Regions from separate parts of the Homo sapiens genome. Here region 1 is linked to region 2. Evidence: fine-mapped QTL for protein levels in blood plasma. A gene starts in region 2. The other region holds a variant in brackets. All regions are shown on one strand. Distances are between the middles of the regions.

Region 1 (11,128 bases), 32 kb after region 2:
CATTTGGGTACTGAAAATTTGGAAAGATTCATTAGGGATCTCTTGATCTTGAGTCTGTGGCTTGGGTACATAAGATCTATCGCATGGCAGATGTGCTCCCATGCATCTCTTGAGGCCAAGGAGGTGAAATTGTGATATTATTTCTCCAAATAGTGCGTTCATCACGAAACCAAGAAAACTGAGAATGTTGATAAGCTAACATATTTATTTTTAACTGTTTAGCAATCTCATAAAGTTAGCCCAAAAAGTGCCTACTGCTGATCTGGAGGATGTTTTGCCACTAGCTGAAGATATTACTAACATCCTCTCCAAATGCTGTGAGTCTGCCTCTGAAGATTGCATGGCCAAAGAGGTAAGACAAGCTTTATTATCATTATCACCATGTGCCAGGTATTGAGTGCCAAGTACTGAGTGGCAGGTACTCTTCTAAGTTCTATTTCATATGCATTATCCTAACGGATGCTTACATGTATTCTATGAAATATAAATAATTATTAACATCACTGTACAGGTGAGAAAACAGAAGATTAGTAAGGGTCAATAATTTGTTACCACACAACTAGTAGGTGGCAAAGTCCATATGCAAAGATGAGATTATCTGATTTCCAAGACCTTATGCTACTTGCACTGTATGGTATTCATTACCACATATGGTCATTTAAATTTAATTATAGTTAAAGTTAAACATATATGTTTAAGTTGAATATGATTTAAAATTCAGTTCTTCAGTTACACTAACCACATTTCAAATGCACAATGGTATTGGATAGTGCAAATACAGATCATTTTCATTATTGCGTAAAGTTCCATTAAGCGGCACTTCAACCATTATACTAGTAGACGCTACTACTGTTTTTATTATACTTTTTATAATTTGATGCCCATCTCAATTTTTTTTACCATTTTTCATTTTCATAATCCTTTAAAACTATTTAAATTTGAATAATTGCTTTAGCTGAAGGTCAGTCTCCAAGATCTTGTCAATCTCTGTAGTAATAGATACATTGTGTTGCCTTGTCTTTTTCCATTAAAAATGCATGTCTGTGTTAATAGATGCTTTTCTATAAGGATTTATAATGGCTAAATAGGACTCTGTTGCCTATATCCATGTCATGTATTACATCTATCTATCTAGACACACCATATTTTTATTTTACTAATCCTCTATTGTATTTAGGTTGTGTTGGTTTTTTTAAAATATTTTAGGCAATCGTTGCACTTAATAGCCTTATAGTTGTTGTCGTTTTATCTACAATTATTTTCTGAGTATAAATTCTTAAAAATAGAATTGTACATTTTTAAGACTTTTAGTACATATTGACAAACTGCCTTTCCAAATATTGTACCAATTTTCTTTCTGAGAGTCTTCATACTGACTTTCATAAATGTGATGCCAAAGCTTGTAAGCCTATGTAATTCTTATTTTTAATTAGACTATCAGGAAACTAACAATGCACAAACTAACCATTCGTTTTGTAGCTGCCTGAACACACAGTAAAACTCTGTGACAATTTATCCACAAAGAATTCTAAGTTTGAAGACTGTTGTCAAGAAAAAACAGCCATGGACGTTTTTGTGTGCACTTACTTCATGCCAGCTGCCCAACTCCCCGAGCTTCCAGATGTAGAGTTGCCCACAAACAAAGATGTGTGTGATCCAGGAAACACCAAAGTCATGGATAAGTAAGTAGAGGTGATGTGAAAACGTTTTCCCATTTTAAGTTCATCTGGACAAAAAGTGGGGGCCAGCCAGATGGAGGGAAGGTATGCTATCACTCATTTCAAACATAGGCAAAGTACTACCTTTATGCTTTTCATGGACTTTAAGTATTTGTTAATTAATTGTAAATGACTAAAATTTTTAAAACACCATAATCGAGTGTGATAGAAAGATTTTGGGTAGTGAGAAAGGAGCTTAGAGTTCCTAATTGTGCCTTCTCTGTTTCCTGTGCATGGCCAAAAGAAGTGACTTGATAATTCTGAACTTCAGCCTATTGTTAATTAATTTGGAAATGTTAACTCTTGCCTTACTTAGCACACAGACTGCTAATGAGAAATGCATGTAGAAATGTAAGTGAAAGTAAATGTGAAAACACATATTTGCATACAATGCTGAACACATGTAAAATATATCATGCAACCAGAAATGTTTATAATATTATTAACTAGTTTTATCATATTACTTCTGGTTCAAAGTCACAAATCAAAAGCCTAAAGTATACTAAACTTTTGGACAATAAGCATTTGATACAAATAAAAGAGATACCAAGCACAGAATATTTTTTTCTTAGCATTATCAATATTCATTTTCATTAAATTTAAAAAGAGATTTAATGCAAAGAAATGGTAAACTTTTATCCTGTTTCATCCAACTAAAAAAAAGTAAGTTAAAAATATACCATGGTTTGAATAGATGTGTATGCATAATGATGGCATAAAAATATTTCACAAATAGTTTGAAGCAGCAGGTTGAAATATCAATTAGCAATATCAGATGGTAGAAGTTACATAGGACTGAAACTTTACATTTTTCTAAATGTGTATTGCTTTTATAAGTGCATAGACAGCAGTGGGGTAAGACATAATGAAGGAATTTACACAAACCAATTTTCACAGAAAAGCCTTTTGAAGTATCCACTTGATGCTTTATACAGAGTCAATTGCATTATGCTTGCACAAAGACAGTTCCATATGCATTTGAAGTAGATATGTTTACATATAATATATTTAAATGTATATTACATGCAAAGCTTTAATTCAGTATTGACTAGTCACAATAGCAAGTATTAATAGCTTGTATCTCAATGAAAGTATTTTATAATCCAAAGCCTGTTGATTTAGAGTCAGTCTGAGCTAAATCTCTTCTTTTTAATTAAGATGCAGAAACCAGGTGCTCTGCCTTTATGATAGATATTTCACATTTTAAAATGTAGGCCAGGCACAGTGGCTCATCCATCTAATCCCAGCACTTTGGCAGGCCGAGTCAGGCGAATCACTTGAGGTCAGAAGTTCCAGACCACCCTAGCCAACATGGTGAAACCCTGTCTCCACTAAAAATACAAAACTTAGCCGGGCATGGTGGTGGGCGCCTATAATCCCAGGTACTCGGGAGGCTGAGGCATGAGAATCGCTTGAACCCAGGAGGCAGAGGTTACAGCGAGCCAAGATGGCACCACTTCACTCCAACCTGGGTGACAGAGGGAGACTCTGTCACAAAAAATAAATAAATAAATAAATAAATAAATAGGAAATATATAACACATATCTCCTTTTCTCCCTCATGCTAGGTATACATTTGAACTAAGCAGAAGGACTCATCTTCCGGAAGTATTCCTCAGTAAGGTACTTGAGCCAACCCTAAAAAGCCTTGGTGAATGCTGTGATGTTGAAGACTCAACTACCTGTTTTAATGCTAAGGTATATTTGTTGGATTTTCTTTATCAAGCACATAGATCAAGGGTTGGAAAATTATAGTTCATGGGCCAAAACTTGCTCACTGCCTACTTTTTTATGGCCTACAAACTAAGAACAGAAGAATGGTTTTACATTTTTACATTGTTGGGAAAAAAGCAAAAGAACATCAGTATCTCATGACCCATGAAAATTATTCAAAATTCAAATTTCAGTGTTCATACATACATTAACTTCCACTGGGACACAATCATCCTCATTGTTTCTGCAAAGCTTACAACTGCTTCTGTACAGAGTTGAGTAGTTGCAACAAAGGCCACATATGGCCTGCAAACCCTAAAATTATTATCCGGCCTTCTGTAGAAAATAGTTGCCAATGCTTAATGATACAATATTTGGAATTTTGATTTAATGGCTTGATGGGACAAGGTTTCAAGACAAATAATTTTGTTATGCAATTATTGTTTTCTTACAGGGCCCTCTACTAAAGAAGGAACTATCTTCTTTCATTGACAAGGGACAAGAACTATGTGCAGATTATTCAGAAAATACATTTACTGAGTACAAGAAAAAGTAAGAAACTTGTTCTGGCTGTATCCTCCAAATTTATCAATAATATTTTCATAGTACTATGAATTGAAAGCATAGTTGAACACTTAAGCTTGTCTTCAGTGAACAACAACAAAAGGAGGTTCAATTAGGAGTTTTTTAAAGTAGTCAGAATCTCATAGAGTGGAATAATAGACACTGGAGACCCCAAAAGGTGGGAGGGTAGGAGAGGGGTGAAGGATAAGGAATTCCCTATTGGATACAATGTACACTATTTGGGTGATGATTATACTAAAAACCTAGACTTCACCACTATGCCATACATCCATGTAACAAAAATGCACTTGTACCCCCTAAATCATTTTATTTTTTTAAAAGTAGTTGGAATCTAACATCTGTATAAGAAGAAGCTAAGTTTTTCTGGAGGAAACATGTCATGTGTAGCAAGTGGGTGGCCAATTAAAACAGCCATAAAAATATAGATGACGAAATCTATCTGCAGGAACTTGAGTCAAAATGGCAAAATGAGCACATAGCTTAGCAACATTCTTACCCCAGAATTTTCTGTAGATATTGCTGTACAAAATTGAGGACCTATAAAACTGCTAAAAATGTTATCTAACTTCATGGCATATTGCCTGGCAAGAAGACCCAAACTTTCAATCAAGCATACTGTCAGCTATCACCAGCATATATTCCCTATAAATTAGAAATAGAAATGTTAACTACCAATAATGTTATATAATAGTCATTTTTCTCAATTAAGAGAAGGAAAAAGCATTTCTCTATAAATAGACATTAACAGTAAAATAATAGGCCACAATAAGGTAAGAAGTGGTACTGGGTTCTTGGGGAAAGTCTCCATTGAGAAGACCATGTCATTTTTCCTAACGTTAGTAAATTTCTCAGATCCTATTCCCTCCTCCCCCCAACTTTCTTTTTTTTTTTTTGCCTCCTTTGAGTCTCTTCTTGCCTCATTTGCACCCCCCGGCAGCTCAAACCTACTTGTTTCAACAATGCTTTTATGAACTAACTGGTCCCCCTTACCCTTTTGTCCCTTCCCAGCATCCACTCTTGCCAAGCCCAACTCTAGATTAATTTGAGTCTCCTTACCTCCCATTGCCCCCCGCTGGGCTGGCAAGCATTTCCTGAAGAAAGTCATAAAACCAGGCTGAGTTGTTCATGGGAGTGGAGAGACGCCGAGATCATCGATTGTACAAATTGAAAGAATCAGGAGATATCAAGTCTTATCACCATCCTGAAAGAGAAATGGAGAGTTCGTTTTTAGTAGAGCTAAAAATAAGAGCGAAAATTTCCTTACTCCTGTATTGGTGTTTTCCAACATAGTGAGTTGAGAAGTAGATAAATTGAGGGTGAAATTATATAAATTATGAGAGGAAAAAAAGGCATTAAGCTGGTATGAGGTCCTGTAAAGGAAATATTCTTTAAGGAATTTGAAATTTAAAACTGAAGAGAAGGTGAAAGGTTAGGATAAAATAGAAGAGGTACTCTTCCATTTTGAAATAATGAGCAAATGAAAGAAGACTGGACTTCCAATTCAGCAGCGATTTGTATGTTTATTTTTATGATCTCGAAGAGGCATGTTTCACTTTCTGATCTCAAATTGACTATTCTATACCACAGGTATAGAATTTTCTTGAGACAGGCAAGTATTTCTATTTTCATTTTTATTGTAAAAGATCTGAAATGGCTATTATTTTGCATTAGAAATTTGTATAAAATAAATACATGTAGTAAGACCTTACATTTAAATGGTTTTTCAGACTGGCAGAGCGACTAAAAGCAAAATTGCCTGATGCCACACCCACGGAACTGGCAAAGCTGGTTAACAAGCACTCAGACTTTGCCTCCAACTGCTGTTCCATAAACTCACCTCCTCTTTACTGTGATTCAGAGGTAGGAAAATGTAACCCTCCACTTAACATGGCAGAATCTTTTAAGAACGTATGCACTCCAATCTACTCATTTCTTTCCTGTTATTGAGATGCCATTATGTGACAGGCTTTTCCTGGTGTTATTGTAACTTGGCTGTCTTTGCAATGAAAGTAAGAAACATAACTGATTTCATGCTATGCTCATTTAAAAGCAAGTTGAGGTAGTTGTAAAACTTAGGAAATTTTATACTTTTTTTAAGAAACAAAAGAGTCTGTGAACACAGGCAACAAAGTATGTGTAGTGTTTTACAAATTGTGAGTTGTAACCTAGTAACAGCCTATTTAAATGAAAAAGAGAAGAATAAGAATACAGTGAGAACATCAGAGTTCATTACCTTCACATAGTGAAGGTAAATTGTATTTCATATATCTGTATGTGTGTTTATGTAGATACATACATATGCATATATAGGCAGGTAGA[T/C]TGATAAAAATAAATACTTTAGAAAAATGGGGTCATATCATACCTTCTATTAATATGTTAATTATAAAAATATTATTTAACTTTGTTTTAATATGACATAAGAAAAAAATGCAACTGAAGAATTTCTAAAGGTCACATAAATGTTTCATTACTATAAGAGTTATTTTCTAAAAACTAAAAAATGATTTTAAAGAATATTAAAATTTTAGTCATTTTTTATTACGAATTTCTTTTTTAGACACTATCAATTGTCTCCAAACTCTGAAAGCTAAAGATATTAGAAGTCCTATATATCTTCCAGTTTCCCTCCCTACTCCCCTCAATTTTGGATAGTTCTTGGATTCATCTTTCTTTAAATGTCCCTTCCCCTCCTCCCTGTCTCCCCTTTTTCTTCCTTCCCCTCCCGCTTCCTGGTTCAGGTCCAATATTGTTAACAGTAAAATAACCCCTTCCCCTATTCCCCTCCTCCTTTCTCTCTTTCCCCTTCTCTCCCATAAATGTATTTGCATAATTGCCAGATCATTTATTTTTTAATTTGTGCAAAACACCAGCAGTTCTGGCCAAACCTTTTTGTTTTCTCTGATAGTATTAATAGATGAATTAGTGTTTATCTAATCACCACATCTGAGGCCTATTGGTTTTCTCCTATAAACCACAGTGTTAGGTTGGTATCTTGTATTCTGCCCATCTTTATATAGACTGAAGGTGTGAGAGAGGGGAGGAGACCTCAGGTAGGTTGTGTGGGCCCATTGTTAGTAGACCTGAGCTATGCTTCGACTTCTGAGATTTCAAGTGTCTTATGCTAAGATTTCTTTCACCAAGTCAGCATCTGCCCTATTTTCACGGTGAGGGGTGTATTTTGCTGGCCTTTTTCAGAAAATGTCAGCCCATACGTTCACATCCTCCATTTTACCTGTTACTCTCCAGCAAGCATTTCATTTTTTTAGAAGAGTCAAAAGATAAAAACAGCACTTCATTTCACTTTACTGCTTATTTGGAGACATTAGTAATAACTCCAAGAATTGTGTTGTCTTGCCCACTCTATTTCTGAAATATAGAGGCAGGGTTAGGAACAATTCTATGCCATACCAAATGATACTTAGGTTAAATGATTTCATGCCAATTAGAATTAGAAGCCCTTAAACCCGTTTTTTTTTTGTTTGTTTGTTTTTTGGAGATGAAGTCCCGTTCTGTCACCCAGGCTGGAGTGCAGTGGTGAGATCTTGGCTCACTGAAAACTTCACCTCCTGGGATCAAGTGATTCTCCTGCCTCAGCCTCCCGAGTAGCTGGTATTATAGGTGCCCACCACCACGCCCAGCTAATTTTTGTATTTTTGGTAGAGACAGGGTTTCACCATGTTGGCCAGGCTGATCTGGAACTCCTGACCTCAAGTGATCCACCCGCCTCAGCCTCCCAAAGTGCTGAGATTACAGGTGTGAGCCACTGCGCCCGGCCAGAAGGCCCTTTCTATAAGTGAAATAATTTAAGAATTTACCTGAAGTTTTGTTCATTTATCAGCCACGAAAGCAATAAAGCCCAGTTTCTATTAGACTGCATTTAAAAATACCCAAGAACTTAATTTTTAAAAAAGCAAGTCACGAAAGTATAAATGTTCAAAGAAAACTATAAAGATCATCTAGTGTAATTTCTCACTCAGTTAATTCCTTCTAGAGGTGCATTCAGCCTCCATTTAAATTTCTATAGTCAATTTATCTACTCCTAAGAGTAGAAATGGAAATGGCCTATTTCATTGCCAGGTAGCTGCATTATGAGAACATTCTTCTATAAATTAAGCTGTGATATTCCCTTTGTAATTTCTCCTGCAATCACCCTGGCTTTCTCTATCAACTAGAAAATGTCTATTCTCTGTTCGCAATAGCAGCTCTTTTATACTTGAAGTGACTTTTTAAAAATTAAGCTGTGTAAAGTATTTTTTTAAAGTCTTGGGCTATGCATTCCAAATTTCTTAATATCCATATTTTAGTAAAGTTTTATTTGTTTTGTTATGTTTTGTTTTGTTTTATTTTATTGTACAGTGCCTAAGAAAAAAGTCTTAGTTTGACAAATGGAGCTACATCTTTTTCTAATTTCTTCCTTATAACCTTAGGGATTCTGGTTTCTTTTCTAATTTCCATATTTACACTCTGGTCCCAAACCTATTTGCTAATCTTGTTTGTAACAATTTATAAAGTCAGAATTCCAGATGAAGAGAGTACGGTAGAATAAAAGCCTTTTCTTTAAATTCTCCTGACAAATATGCCATCTTAATCTTTCATTAAAATTCAAACTACTTAAGATTCTCAACATAAAAACAGAAGAAGCTGGATTGTCAGAATATTTTGGTCATTAAAACATTTTTAGCATAAAATAATTAATTAAATTGAACAGTTCTTTCTTTTCATACCAAGTTGCTTTTAGTAATCTAAATTTAGTTCCAATTTAGGTGGCCTTAACCTAGAAAAATAAAATCACCTTACATAGAAGTTGTTTGCTACCAGAAAAATTTTCTCTGAGAGTCTGTTATTACGAAAGAAGAAGAAAACAGTCTAAATGTCTTTTAGATTCTATAAGAAATATCACTTTTGAAACCTTTCCCTGTCCCTTTGTTATCTGTCTATACAGATATGCACTGTCCTGCCTGACACCATACAAGACAAACTGAGCTTTAAGCGCAAATTCATGCTTCCTAAAAGCCCCTGGTTTTTCATTTCTTTGAGTTGGTTTTCAATATAACATATTGCCATTCAAATCATTACAATGATGAGAAGACAGGTTTGTAGCTCTCTCACTTCTTGCTTTATCGACAGTAAATTTATAGCAGCTGAGTAGCCTTTCAGTAATTGCTAAAGTAGAGTGCGATGAATGGAGTTGTTGAGATACTTGTGCACATTTGATTATTCAGAGTACACAGAGATTAAATCCTCTGCTATTTCAATTAGCCCTCTGATTGCCTTTGTAAACTGATCTCATAGCTAGGTAGGCAAGCTCACCCCTCCTTTCTGACTTTACTTTAGTGCAACATCTGTTTGAACAGCATTCTCTTTAATTTCCAATGCCTAACGTGAATGTCCCATTTGTCCTATAATATTTGGATCCTAATTTGTGAGATCTCCTTGTCATACATTTGCTTGAAAAAACTTTTCCTTAAAAGTAATATCCATCTACTCCTTTCACTGCAAGTCACTTATATCCAGGGATCAGTCTCTACTTGTCATTCCAAATACACTTGGCACAACTACTGGAAGACTGGGAAAAGGGGCTTCTGAACCATACTTAGTGTTTCATTACATGGGTATCTACCCCTATCCTCACCCAATCTTGAAATGACCAGGAAATAGAACAATCAATGTCATTTTCTTTTGGCTTTACCATGGCACTCTTAGAAGTGGTTCATTTGTTTATGCCAAAAAAGACCCATTTGCCTACAGAAAAACCTATAGTTACAAAATTAGACTTGAAATCTTCTTTTCTCTTTCTACCATCATTCAGGCAGGGCATCCCTTTGGGCTCTTCTGAGAACTCATTACTATGCTTCCTTTAAAATGTTTCAACAGACTGCTAGTGAGCATCAGATATGATTTCCCAAAGTATTCCAAAAGTCATTGTAATATGCTGGAATTGATCACTAAAATCTTAAAAACACAGAGACAAATACAAATAGCCAAGTGGAAGCCGGGCAAAGAGGAGACTGACAAGTAGAGTGATATACTGTCTACCCCCCACCACCTGTCTTTCTTGTGTCAGGAAAAACTAGTATAGTCACTGTAGTTTGTTTTATCTCTCAGTATAACTTGATTTTATAATCTTCAGTGTCATAGCTATCATTGATTAAGCCATTGCTATTTGTTAAGCAGAAATATTAATAGCCTGGCATGTATGTATTTATAGAATAACCCAAAACAATTCTAGATGTTAATTAATATTTTAATTCCCCCTTTTACAGATGGGTTGAATGAAACTTACAGAGGTTATATGATGTTAGAAAAATCTAAATTTATTCTGTATTAGTCTGTTACTCTCCCTCAATGTCCTTGTCATAGACGTCAGCCCTAACTTAGCTAGTCATGACAAAAGCAAACTATTGATAGAAGACTATTGACTGAAAATCCAAAATTATTTTTAAGTAGCAAAAATGATACCAGGTTGGTAATATCGCTGTGAATTTTATCCATCTCACTTCCTTGGACTCTTCCTCCATTAGACATACTCTCTTCTTTTGTGTCAACATTTTTGCCAGCTCTGTCTAATTTGTATTAAAGTTACTCTTCTTCTTATCTCAAAAAATAATAAATAAGGCACTTTAGACACCTCTCTAGCTATATTTCTTTCTCCTCCCTTACAGCCAAGATTCTTGCAAGAATACCATATACTCCAACTCCTCACACCTCTTATTAATTCCTCAACCCTTTGCAGTCTGGCTTTTGATGGTACCATATGACTGTCAACAAAGGCACGCCAACAATATCCTTCTTGTTAAATCTAATAAACATTTTTCAATTCTTACCAGATTTCTCCACAAAACAGTTGATACCCATAAGTATACCTTCCTTCTTGAAACAATTTACTTAGCACCTGTAGTATTATTTTCTACTTTTTGTCTTTCTATGATTCCTCTCTTCTTGTTCTATTTCATATTGTCCTCTTCCTTTACCTGTCTCTTAAATTTGTTTCCAGAGTTTTTTCCTTGTTCTTCATTTCCATGGCACTACATTTTCTCAACTGTTTTCATCAATGCTTATGCTTTTAATCTCCAAATCTCTACCTCCAACCAAGATCTCTCCCTCAGCATTAG
Region 2 (11,128 bases):
CAGATTCCTTCCATCTTCAAAGTCAGCAATCCCATCCCTCCAACCTCTGCTTTCTTTCTCACATCTCTTTCACTCTGATGTTCTGCCTCATTCTTCTACACATAAAGGACCTTTGTGATAACATTGAGCCCACCCTAATAATCCAGGAAAATCCCTGTATTTTAAAGTAAACTGATTAATTTTATCTGCAACCTCAATTCCCCCTTGCCAGGTAACATAACAGAATTACAGGTTGCAGGGATTAGGGTGTGGGCAACTTTGGTCGGCCATTATTCTGCCTTTTCCTGACTTTATAGATGGCTCTGAAAAGAAATTCCTGAAAACTGAGAAAATTCATTTCTCCTTCAGTATAGAGAATCTATTAGATCATCTAATATTTTAACTTATTTTGCAATATGATCCTGAAAACTTTTTAAAACTCACTCATATAACCCAAGTTAAGGGTCAGCTTTATTTATTCAGATTGCCAGTCCTTCCTCTTTAGAGTCCTGTTCATTAGAGAATGTACATAAAACAGCATTATTAGAAGCTCTTAACAAAGATTAGCCAGGCTATGAAAATTAACATTTGTTCTATTTTTTAGGACTCCATTCTATTCCTGGAAATATATATATTTAAAATCTAAATGTATATATGTACATTTGGGGACATCTATCAGGGTGGTTCACATATGAATGTTTTAGGATATATTGGCTTATTTTCTCATTCTCTCACATATTATATTTTATCTTTTATTCTCTTCTTTTCTCGATTCTCTCATTTTCTCTTTATCACCTTCTGCTTCTCTTTCTCTCTATACATAATGCAAAAATATACTACAATTGTCAATACTTGTAAAAGTAATTACACAGTTTTAATATTCAGACCTGTTTCTACAAATTACCTGGCTTCAGTGTTGGAAAATAGTTCATTAAAAAATTATTATAAAACCATTTTTTAATTAACTGAACCTAAATATTTTTACTTAAGAATACTAAGAACCTAAATATTTTACTTAAGAACATTTAGCTCACAGTTAACTAGTTATGACTATATATTTAACAGTGATTATTATGGCATTCTGCATTCCATTGACCAATAAAGGTGGAAAGAGGTGTAGCTGCCTCTCTGTGATTATCAGCTAAGTCTCATATAAACCTTGTTCCTGCACTATTTTTTAAATTCTATTTTCAATTTCTTTCTTTCTTTCTCATTCTTTCTTTTTCTTTTTTTCTCTTTCTTTTCTTTCTTTCTTTCCTTCTTTCTCCCTTTCTGCTTTTTTTCAAGCAGAAGATAAAATCATTTGCATCTAGTCTGAACCATCATTTCTCTTAAATATCTGTTTCTCTTCAGTGATGTATATTTCTTTATGGAAGTGTTTTTGGGAAAGTTATGGTTATTTGGCAGTTTGTTATACAAGACCTCATAAACTACTACAGCCTTAGTAAAGAGCATCATGGCAGAAGACAATTTATCTCTAATTGTTCCTCAAATTTTTATTTTAAAATAAATGAAACCATTTGGTTAATAAATTCATTTATATTTGTCAGCATTTTCTGAACTCCTGCACTCTGTGGAATATATTTCTATAACCGCCCCTATTGTTTTAAAATATGAATAAATCATTTGCAGATTTTCATGAAAATCCAAGTAAAATTAAAAATGAATTGGCTGGTTCATGAAAACCATGATTACTCAAATTATACCTGGATTTCAGTGAGCATAAACGAATTACAGAATTCTAGCATGTCTTTCATTTTTAAATCCAGGGTTGATAAATTTCTCTAGGCATTTAAATTCCTTCATTAAACTGATTATGACTAGTGTTTACTACATTCAGTTTCTATCTGTGCTAGCTGTGCTAGCTGTTGGGAATACCAAAATGAAGGTGATTTAGCTATAGTAGGAGCACTGTGGGAGAGCAAAGCACAGAGGAGGTGGACTCAGCACAACCTGGAAATTTGGGTGTCTTCCAAGCTCCAGAGTCATGGACCCAGCTGCCTACTCAAAATTCCACCTGAAAACATCTTCCATCAGACTGTGTGTCTTCTTCAGTGTCTTCTATTTTGGATATTGGCATTAATATCCATCCACTTGCACAAGCTAGAAACTTGGGCATAATTTCTCACTCTTCCCCCCTCAGCCAAAGTCTAGTCAATTACCACTCTCTGATGATTCTGTGTCTTAAACCATCTCACGCCTCTGCCAGCACCACAGGCCACACTTCTGTCATCCCTTGCTTGGACTTCTAAAGCAGTCTTCAAGCTACTCTCACTGTATCTACTCTTACCCCTCCCATTCTCTGCACCCTCACAACTCAGCACACTTGTCATTTTGTCTTCAACATCTGTCTTCCCAGCTAGACTAAGAAGGTCCATGAGGGGAAGAGCCATGTAGATCTTTTGATATGGTAGTACCAATAGCTTGCATGTTACTTGGTACAAAGTGGTATGAATTAAATATATGTTAAATGAATAAATGAAAGACTGACAGACGAGGGACAACAGACACGTAAAATAGAGTAAGGGAAGAAAGAAGAATGTGAACAAAGACAGTGGAAAGCTCAATAGCACAATGTGTTCAGTGAACCACAAGTAGTTCAACCGTACCTAATTTTAATGTACATACACAGCAAAGAATCCTTTTTAGAGGTAAGTAGGATTAATTTATGAACTTTAAGCACAGGCATTGGCCTAAGTCATTTTAAATAGGGAGGCAGAAACACAGTCTTATTTGCATTTTTGATAAATAATGACAGTAACAGAGGGGAGAATGATTTAAAGGTAGGTTAGTTAGAATGCTTTTCATTGCAAATTCAGCTAGAATAAGCTTAAGTAAAAAGAGATTTATTACAAGGATATTGGAATTTCTCATGGAAGTCAATCATAGCTAAATGGCTGAACTATAAGAATTTTCTGAAACCTGGATTGTGTTCTGTTCTTCTCTGTACATCAACTTTAAAGATATTACTTCGATCCACTAATATCAATTTTGTCAGGTCATTTATCAGGAAAAGATACTGATAATGCATTTTAATAGTATAAAGAGAATCTGAACGAAGAGAACACCAGACAAAATCATTCTGAAGAAGGTCATTTCTACAGGAGTACTGCAAGAGTTTTTAGAAGACTGTCGCAGCATTAAAGGAAGGTACTGTTCTGATAAAGAGCAGTTGTCAGTGTTATCTTTTAGTAACTAAGGTTTACTGAAAGAAGAGACATGGGATAGAGAAAAGAACTAAAGACAGGCTTTATCTGCCTCACAATTTTGCCTGGAACTAGCCCTAGTTAGGAAGAGATCTGCATTTCCTCTGAAGCCAATGGCAAGATGGAAAAAGAGGAAAGAGGGAAAGAGGCTACTTCAAATCAGTTTTTTACAGGAAAAACAGCTCCTGCAAAATTCTACTGCTTATGTATTCAATAAATAATTCTTGTTAAATATATATATTCAGTGATACATTTCTAGTTGCTATAACTGCTGCTATTATAGACAATGTGAGAAGGTTTGATTTGGTCTTTTTCACCCATTTTTTCCCCATCTGACTTACTAGAGTAATCATTGTCACATGAGGCCTCTCATTTAGGCCAATTATGATTATTTCTTCCCAGTTTTAGAATCACAGTAAGCAATCAACATTTGAAAGATTAAGGAAAGTTACATAAATAAGACTGAAAAAAAGGCTCATATATTTAGCTACTAGCCTGTTTTGCCGAATTTCAGTTAGAAAATTCAGCCAAGAGAATGCATTTGGCAGCTCGTATAGAGATTTCTCAAGAGGGCATCTAAATGAGATGTTGCAATTCTTGCTACATGTAGTTTATCATTAAACAAACGTGGTAAATATTATTGCAAAAGCAGAGATAAAGTTTAATTTTTTAAAAAATGAAAGAATGAGCTGGTCTTAAACTCTGTATCAAAATTCGTAGAAAATAATCTGAGTGTGTCTTTTTGAATGAACTAATCAGAAGATGACGAAATACAGTTGAATAAAAGGGATACAGAAGTATAAATACAGTGTATTATCTTAAAGAAAAATGAAAACTGTATCAATATGCTAATGTGTTACCTACCTCTTTTGAGTTCCGGGGTTCTGAGTAGTTTTTAAACTTTTTCACACTCATTTGGAGTATCATTTCCAAATAATTTGCCATAGAACTAAAATACATTTTTAAATTAACTTGCACAGTAAACTAGGAATTCAGCCAAAGGGAACTGAAAATTTAGATTTATAGTAATCAGGAAGTTGATCCTTGAACAAGATAGAGTTGGCTCTTGGACAGGAAAGCTATCTCCTTGACCATATGGATTTCCACTGGCCTTACAGAAATACTTGTGCTTTGATCTGGCATAGGTATCTTTTTCCAACTAGCTGGACTCTATTTTCTGAACCTAACACCCAAGGATTTTCAGTATAGATAGAAAATCTGACTAAACATGTAACTACCTAAATTGGTTTACTGAAATTTTGATAGACTCTGCCCATGTAGATAATCCTTGGCTACTGAGTTGATAATGAAGTTTTAAATCACTTATCTGCGGGACCCTGGACACAGGGCTGTCTTTAAACTCTTCCACTGAGTTCCAATGGCCTCATTAGTTTCATTGACCTTCACAGATATTATAAATTTGGAAAGCCAGTGGGAGAACGTGGCAATAACTAGAATAAGAGTAATAGGTGACATTAATCCATGTTACTATGTGATGGATGTTACCATGAGCCCTGCACCCAGATTACCTTAATTAACCTCATAGCAATGTTGTGTCAAATGTACTGAGTTATCACCACATTGCATATGAGGAAAATGAAACTTAGAGGGGTAAAATAAATTTCCCAAGGTTACACAGCTATGAAAGCTGAGTAGGGATTTGATTTTAGAGCATGTGTAACAACCTGTACCTGACCATTTCCTGAAAATAGGGCTACTGCAAAAACCAGGAGTGGAACTCATCTAATTCCAATGAATGATCTACCTATGACTCTCTAGACAAGTCACAGAATTTACCCAGTGCTCAGTTCACTCTTCTGTAAAATGAAGATGTTGGATTTCATGTCCTACAGGGCCTCTCTGAGCTCTCAAATTACATGCCCATAAAATATACTAGTTGTAAACTATTAGTAGAAGGAGCTTTAAAATCACTGTAGGGAGTCCAAGATTTGCCACTAACTTTTTATGATTGGCAGTGGTGAGCCATTTAACCTCTCCAGTTATTTGCCTCACTTCAAAGGTTATTTTTCATATATATGTCAGTGCTTCACAAAGTGCAATACAGCATAGAAATACAAAGTACTATGCCATCATCTAAAATAAGATTACTTCATAGCATCAGAATTATGGATTTAAAATATTATGTTGAATTGGCTTCTCACTCTTTTTCCCCTTTTACTTAGAACATCTGGTCTGCAATATTTTAAGGTAATGCTTATTTGTAGTAGATTTAAACAAAGAGAGGAAGAGAGGTAAAGACAGAGTTTCCGATTTTCCACTTACATATGAGAAAGGTGGGGTGTCCAAAGAAGACACACAGCCCTATACAGGGGGAGAAGGTGTGCGTTACTAACATATTAAGTAAACTTTAGTGAGGAACAGCAGTGGAAAATAATCTATATACCTTGGCTCTTTTGCAGTTTGACAAAGTTAATGATTAAAATCTCCTAGATTTTCCACTACAGTATCCCCAGGGTGTCTATTTACCTTGATTGATATTATTTTATCTCTTTTGGGCCAAAGATAACAGCCCCTTGCTTCTGTGTTTAATAATAATTCTGTGTTGCTTCTGAGATTAATAATTGATTAATTCATAGTCAGGAATCTTTGTAAAAAGGAAACCAATTACTTTTGGCTACCACTTTTACATGGTCACCTACAGGAGAGAGGAGGTGCTGCAAGACTCTCTGGTAGAAAAATGAAGAGGGTCCTGGTACTACTGCTTGCTGTGGCATTTGGACATGCTTTAGAGAGAGGTAAGATTTCTTTTGTTGTGACCATTTACAGGAATTCTTACTAGTTTAATTTTATATTATCACTTAAAAAATGAAATAAAAAGTAAGAAACAGAAGAACTGGTGAATATGTTGGGGAGAGGGATAAGGACCAGAGAGGCATTAATCAGAGCTCCACGATGCCATGTAATGTTGAATTGGAATTGACAAAAAAAATCAACACAAGAATCTTGTTAAAGAAAGTAAATGGAATGATATAATTTGTCAATTATCTCTTCCTCCTTTGTTGATAAGCAAGACCTAGAGAGAATAATTTAAAATTAGACATTTGCTAATTGTTACAAGATAATGCAAATAAAGACTGTGATCCACCATTAAGCATTTATTCAGACTTCAAATATTTATTACCATTGAGTGTAATATACCATGCCAATGATGCATGATGTCAACTTAGAGATTTCTTTGATCCCCTTAGAGGAATCTTATACATGCAGTATTTGAAAATGCATTGTATTTTTAAAAATATCCCTCACATAAAATTTTTCTATAGCTATGAAACATAACCACAAATAAGATAATTCAGTTATATTTTTCATTGAAATTATTCTTCAGATGGTGTGTTCATCTTTGGGCAATGTTTAAAAATTTTTTTACATGATAAAGACTGAGATTATGGGAAGTATACAACTTTATGAATTCTACAGCTGGGAAACTTTTCATCATTAGCTTCAATTTACTTTTCTGGCTGATTCTTTAATGTTCACAAGGGACATCTGCATTTATCCTGCTTTGTAAAATTAAGGTTTTCATTTAGTGCTGTCAGTTAACAGCCTCACCTAATTCGTACATTATTATTCATAATAGTAATGTGTTTTGCCAGTGGAATAAAATGTGTGTTCCCAAGAATTATCAGTTATTAACTGTAACATGAATAACCTTACTCTTGACTTTTTATTCTTCTTCTTACATTTACTTTTCCTTGGTCTTATTTCATCATTCAAATTATTTTAACTCGTCTTACCCATCAATTCTTAAGTAAGCTATGCGTCCTTAGGTAAGACTACAAAGTCTTTCCCAGACAGCATAGGGTATAAAAAAGCAACATAAATTGTGTCCCTTATAAGACCTCTGAATAGGCCATGTTCCAAGAAATCCCTTTAAGTCTTATTCTTTTGGCCAAGGATTTGCTGGGGCAGATCTGATCCTGAAAAATCCTACTGAAGCAGGTTCAGATCAGGGTCTTCAAACACAGAAGGTCCAATAATGGCTAGGAATTGGAATTATATATGGAGGCCATAAGCAGGAGCATGAATCACCATCTTAGACTGCTGACTCAATAGGTGCACATTGGCTTCACCTCAAAGAATGAAAGTGTCCTTTGGAGAATAACAGAGCATTCTGCAATCTATATTTCAACATTCTCAGCAGTCCTCAGATTCTGATGAAATGGATGCTAAAAACCTCCAGTCAGTCCCCTAGAAGATCTAAACTTCATTCTTATAACCCATGTGCCATATGCCAGATGATATCTTGAGACATACATAATACACTTGTAAGCATTAACTTTCAATATTTGGGGAGAGTAGTCCTGATCTATCAATTCTCTATTCTCTAATACCTGAGCATGACCCAAAGACCAAGTCAGCAGTTTACTTAGAAGCTAGCTGTGTTCTTCCTGGCAGGAAGTTACAAAGTGTACAGATTAAGGGAGTTCTGAGAACTCTTAGGTTCTGAGTAGCCTTGTATTGTGGGGGATTGGTTTGAATTGCAGTTTTCTCTGCCTGTTATAGTTCTAGAGAGCTGACCACCCACAGCATTTATTTAAGCACCTGTTTCAAAATATATTACACTCAAGACTTACCTTGAAAAGAAGTTTCTGTGGCCAAATATATTTAAGAAATGAGCCATAATTTATTCCTTCTTGGTGGTTTCACAATTCATGCCTTTGTCGTCCTAAAGGTTCTGAGAAACACTACAGGAAAGAAATCTTATCTAACTCAGAGTATCTAAACATATTGACCCTTTTCTACAATGTCTATACCTGTGGAACTATTCTTTGGAAACCTTGGGTCTAAAATGGATACTGTTACAGATGACCCTTTACTGGACAGGTTCCAATTAAGCCAGCCCTCTCCTATCAAACAGCATTGGGAATCTTGTTCCCAAGCCACTGGGTACATCTTGGAGAAGAGAGCTTACCAAATCTGCTAAATCTGGTTAGTACCATAAGAAAATGTCCACTTTTGCTACCCTATGAAAAGCAACAAGGCAGTATTTCCCAGTTGCCTACAAGTAGCTTCTTCCCCTAGGACTGAAATGGATGAAATACTAATATACAATATATCTTTCCCTCTTCCCTTCCAAAGAAACCAAGTAACAAAGACTGGTGATACAGCTATAAAATTTTTTTTTAACTTGCAGATAGAAAAGTTACCTTAATGACCAGGAAACATTTATAAAAATTGATTTTTTAAAATTAAACTACAGCAAAAAAATTCTCAGTTTTAAGTTACACACTGTTAACAGAGCACTAAAAATATTTTTTTTGCATTTTTTTCTTTTCTTTTTTTTCGATTCAAGTTTTCTTTTTTATTATTGTTATACTTTAAGTTCTAGGGTACATGTGCACAATGTGCAGGTTTGATACATATGTATACATGTGCCATGTTGGTTTGCTGACACCCATTAACTCGTCATTTACATTAGGTATTTCTCCTAATGCTATCCCTCCCCCTGCTCCCCACCCCATGACAGGCCCCAGGCTATGATGTTCCCCACCCTGTGACCAAGTGTTCTCATTGTTCAACTCCCAACTATGAGTGAGAACATGTGGTGTGTGGTTTTCTGTCCTTGTGATAGTTTGCTCAGAATGATGGTTTCCAGCTTCACCCATGTCCCTGCAAAAGACATGAACTCATCCTTTTTTATGGCTGCATAGTATTCCATGGTCTATATGTGCCACATTTTTTAAATCCGGTCTATCATTGATGGACATTTGGGTTGGTTCCAAGTCTTTGCTATTGTGAATAGTGCCACAATAAACATACATGTGCATGTGTCTTTATAGCAGCATGATTTAAAATCCTTTGGGTATATACCCAGTAATAAGATGGCTGAGTCAAATGGTATTTCCAGTTCTAGATCCTTGAGGAATAGTCACACTGTCTTCCGCAATGGTTGAACTAGTTTACAGTCCCACCAACAGTGTAGAAGTGTTCCTGTGTCTCCACATCCTCTCCAGCACCTGTTGTTTCCTGACTTTTTAATGATTGCCATTCTAACTGGTGTGAGATGGTATCTCATTGTGGTTTTGATTTGCATTCCTCTGATGACCAGTGATGATGAGCATTTTTTTCATGTGTTTTTTGGCTGCATAAATGTCTTCTTTTGAGAAGTGTCTGTTCATATCCTTTGCCCACTTTTTGATGGGGTTGTTTGTTTTTTTCTTATAAATTTGTTTAAGTTCTTTGTAGATGCTGGATATTAGCCCTTTGTCAGATGGGTACATTGCAAAAAGTTTCTCCCATTCTGTAGGTTGCTGTTCACTCTGATGGTAGTTTCTTTTGCTGTGCAGAAGCTTTTTAGTTTAATTAGATCCCATTTGTCAATTTTGGCTTTTGTTGCCTTTGCTTTTGGTGTTTTAGACATGAAGTCCTTGTCCACACCTATGTCCTGAATGGTATTGCCTAGGTTTTCTTCTAGGGTTTTTATGGTTTTAGGTCTAACATTTAAGCCTTTAATCCATCTTGAATTAATTTTTGTATAAGGTGTAAGGAAGAGATCCAGTTTCAGCTTTCTACATATGGCTAGCCAGTTTTCCCAGCACCATTTATTAAATAGGGAATCCTTTCTCCATTTCTTGTTTTTGTCAGGTTTGTCAAAGATCAGAGGGTCGTGACACAGCTACAAAATTATTAAGGTAATCATGCCAACAGGAAATAAACCACTGCAGTTGATAAGAGCTGTTGGCAAAAAGAGGTTTTTATTATGAACATTTTCCTTTTTGCTTTAAGCATTTCATTCACAGCATTTTTTTTTATTAAACATGATATAAAACTGCAAGAAGAAAGTTCCCTTTGGGTTGGTGGGTGAGCTACACTTTTCCTTCTCTTCCTTCCCTGTCAAAACAGCCCTACGCAAGGGCTGAAGTCATACAGCTCTCATCACTGAGAGCAATGTTAACCTCCCTGAAAATCAATAGCAATGTTTCATCTTACTGATATCAGGTGCAATGCCACATATGCAGTCACCAATATGTAATATAAGGAGAAGTGTGCACACTCTGTAAAACACCACCAGCTTAATCTATTTAGGACAGGAGAAAATGAAGAAACCTCTAAAAGGAATTGATGATGCCCTTCCCCAGTATTTTTGGTCACCTAACTTCTTCATTCTACCCATTGCTTCTTCTCTCTCTCTCCTATTTTTCTCATTCATTCTGATCTGACCACACTGGCCTCCACATTATCTCACACTCTAAGTCCTTTGCACCCCAGGGCTTTGCATTAGTTCTTCTCTATTCCTAGAACATTGATTGTCCAGATATTCTCATAGCTCCCTTCCTCACCTTCTTCAGGCATCTACTCCAAGTCCATTTATAGAGGGGGCTTCCCTAGCCAACCTACCACAAATAACACCTACCAGTCCATTATCTTCTATCCCCTTATTTGGATTTATTTTTTCTTCTTAGCACCTAGTACCTTACCTTATCACTGGTTGTTCATTTGCTTATTGTAACAAATATAGAATGCAAGCCTTGTGAAATTAAGAACTTTTGTTATTTCCTGTAATTCCCAGTAATAGAACATTACTTGGCATTTAGTAGGTGTTCAAAAAATTATTGTGTAATATTACAAAATTGGGTTTTTGTATATGTATGTCTACCATCAGACTCAGGTTCCTTAAAGATTGGTGGCTTTAGAGTTTTCTTTCATATGATGCCATGCTCCCAGGAGATAGCTGATGTGTCTGTGTGTGTTTTTGTGTGTGTGTATAAATAGGTATGTACATAAATATATACACTCATATGTATAAAAATGATCATGAACTGGATTTAGCCAATAATAATAATAATAATAATAATAATAATAACTGACAGCAATATTCTGTTTCCTGAGGATACAATCTTCATTTTACAAATGAGAAAACTGAGGAAGAACAGAGAGGATAAGCAACTTGCCAGCGGTCTCACTATCACCTAGGGTAGCAG

Direction of the effects. Alleles are on the strand shown, and positions count from the first base shown. The strength of an association depends on the size of the effect and on how common the allele is.
As copies of T replace C in region 1, the plasma level of the protein whose gene starts at base 5,823 in region 2 goes down (strong association).

The links. PIP is the chance, under the fine-mapping model, that this variant and not a neighbour inherited with it causes the effect. Protein levels are from antibody-based Olink assays in UK Biobank. Linkage for the fine-mapping came from a reference panel and not from the study's own genotypes, which makes the PIPs less certain.
Region 1: its variant is fine-mapped to the plasma level of the GC protein (UK Biobank, PIP above 0.99).

The regions. Positions count from the first base shown.
Region 1 is chr4:71,747,266-71,758,393 of GRCh38, reverse strand. GC (GC vitamin D binding protein) reads left to right here. Exons shown (of 13, transcript NM_000583.4): 7 at 223-352; 8 at 1,480-1,682; 9 at 3,287-3,416; 10 at 3,886-3,983; 11 at 5,744-5,876. Among named protein-coding and RNA genes, the nearest start is that of GC, 31 kb to the left of the region's middle. The variant T/C (reference allele first, on the strand shown) is at 6,336.
Region 2 is chr4:71,778,774-71,789,901 of GRCh38, reverse strand. It overlaps GC (GC vitamin D binding protein), which reads left to right and starts at 5,823. Exons shown (of 13, transcript NM_000583.4): 1 at 5,823-5,941. The coding sequence starts at 5,884.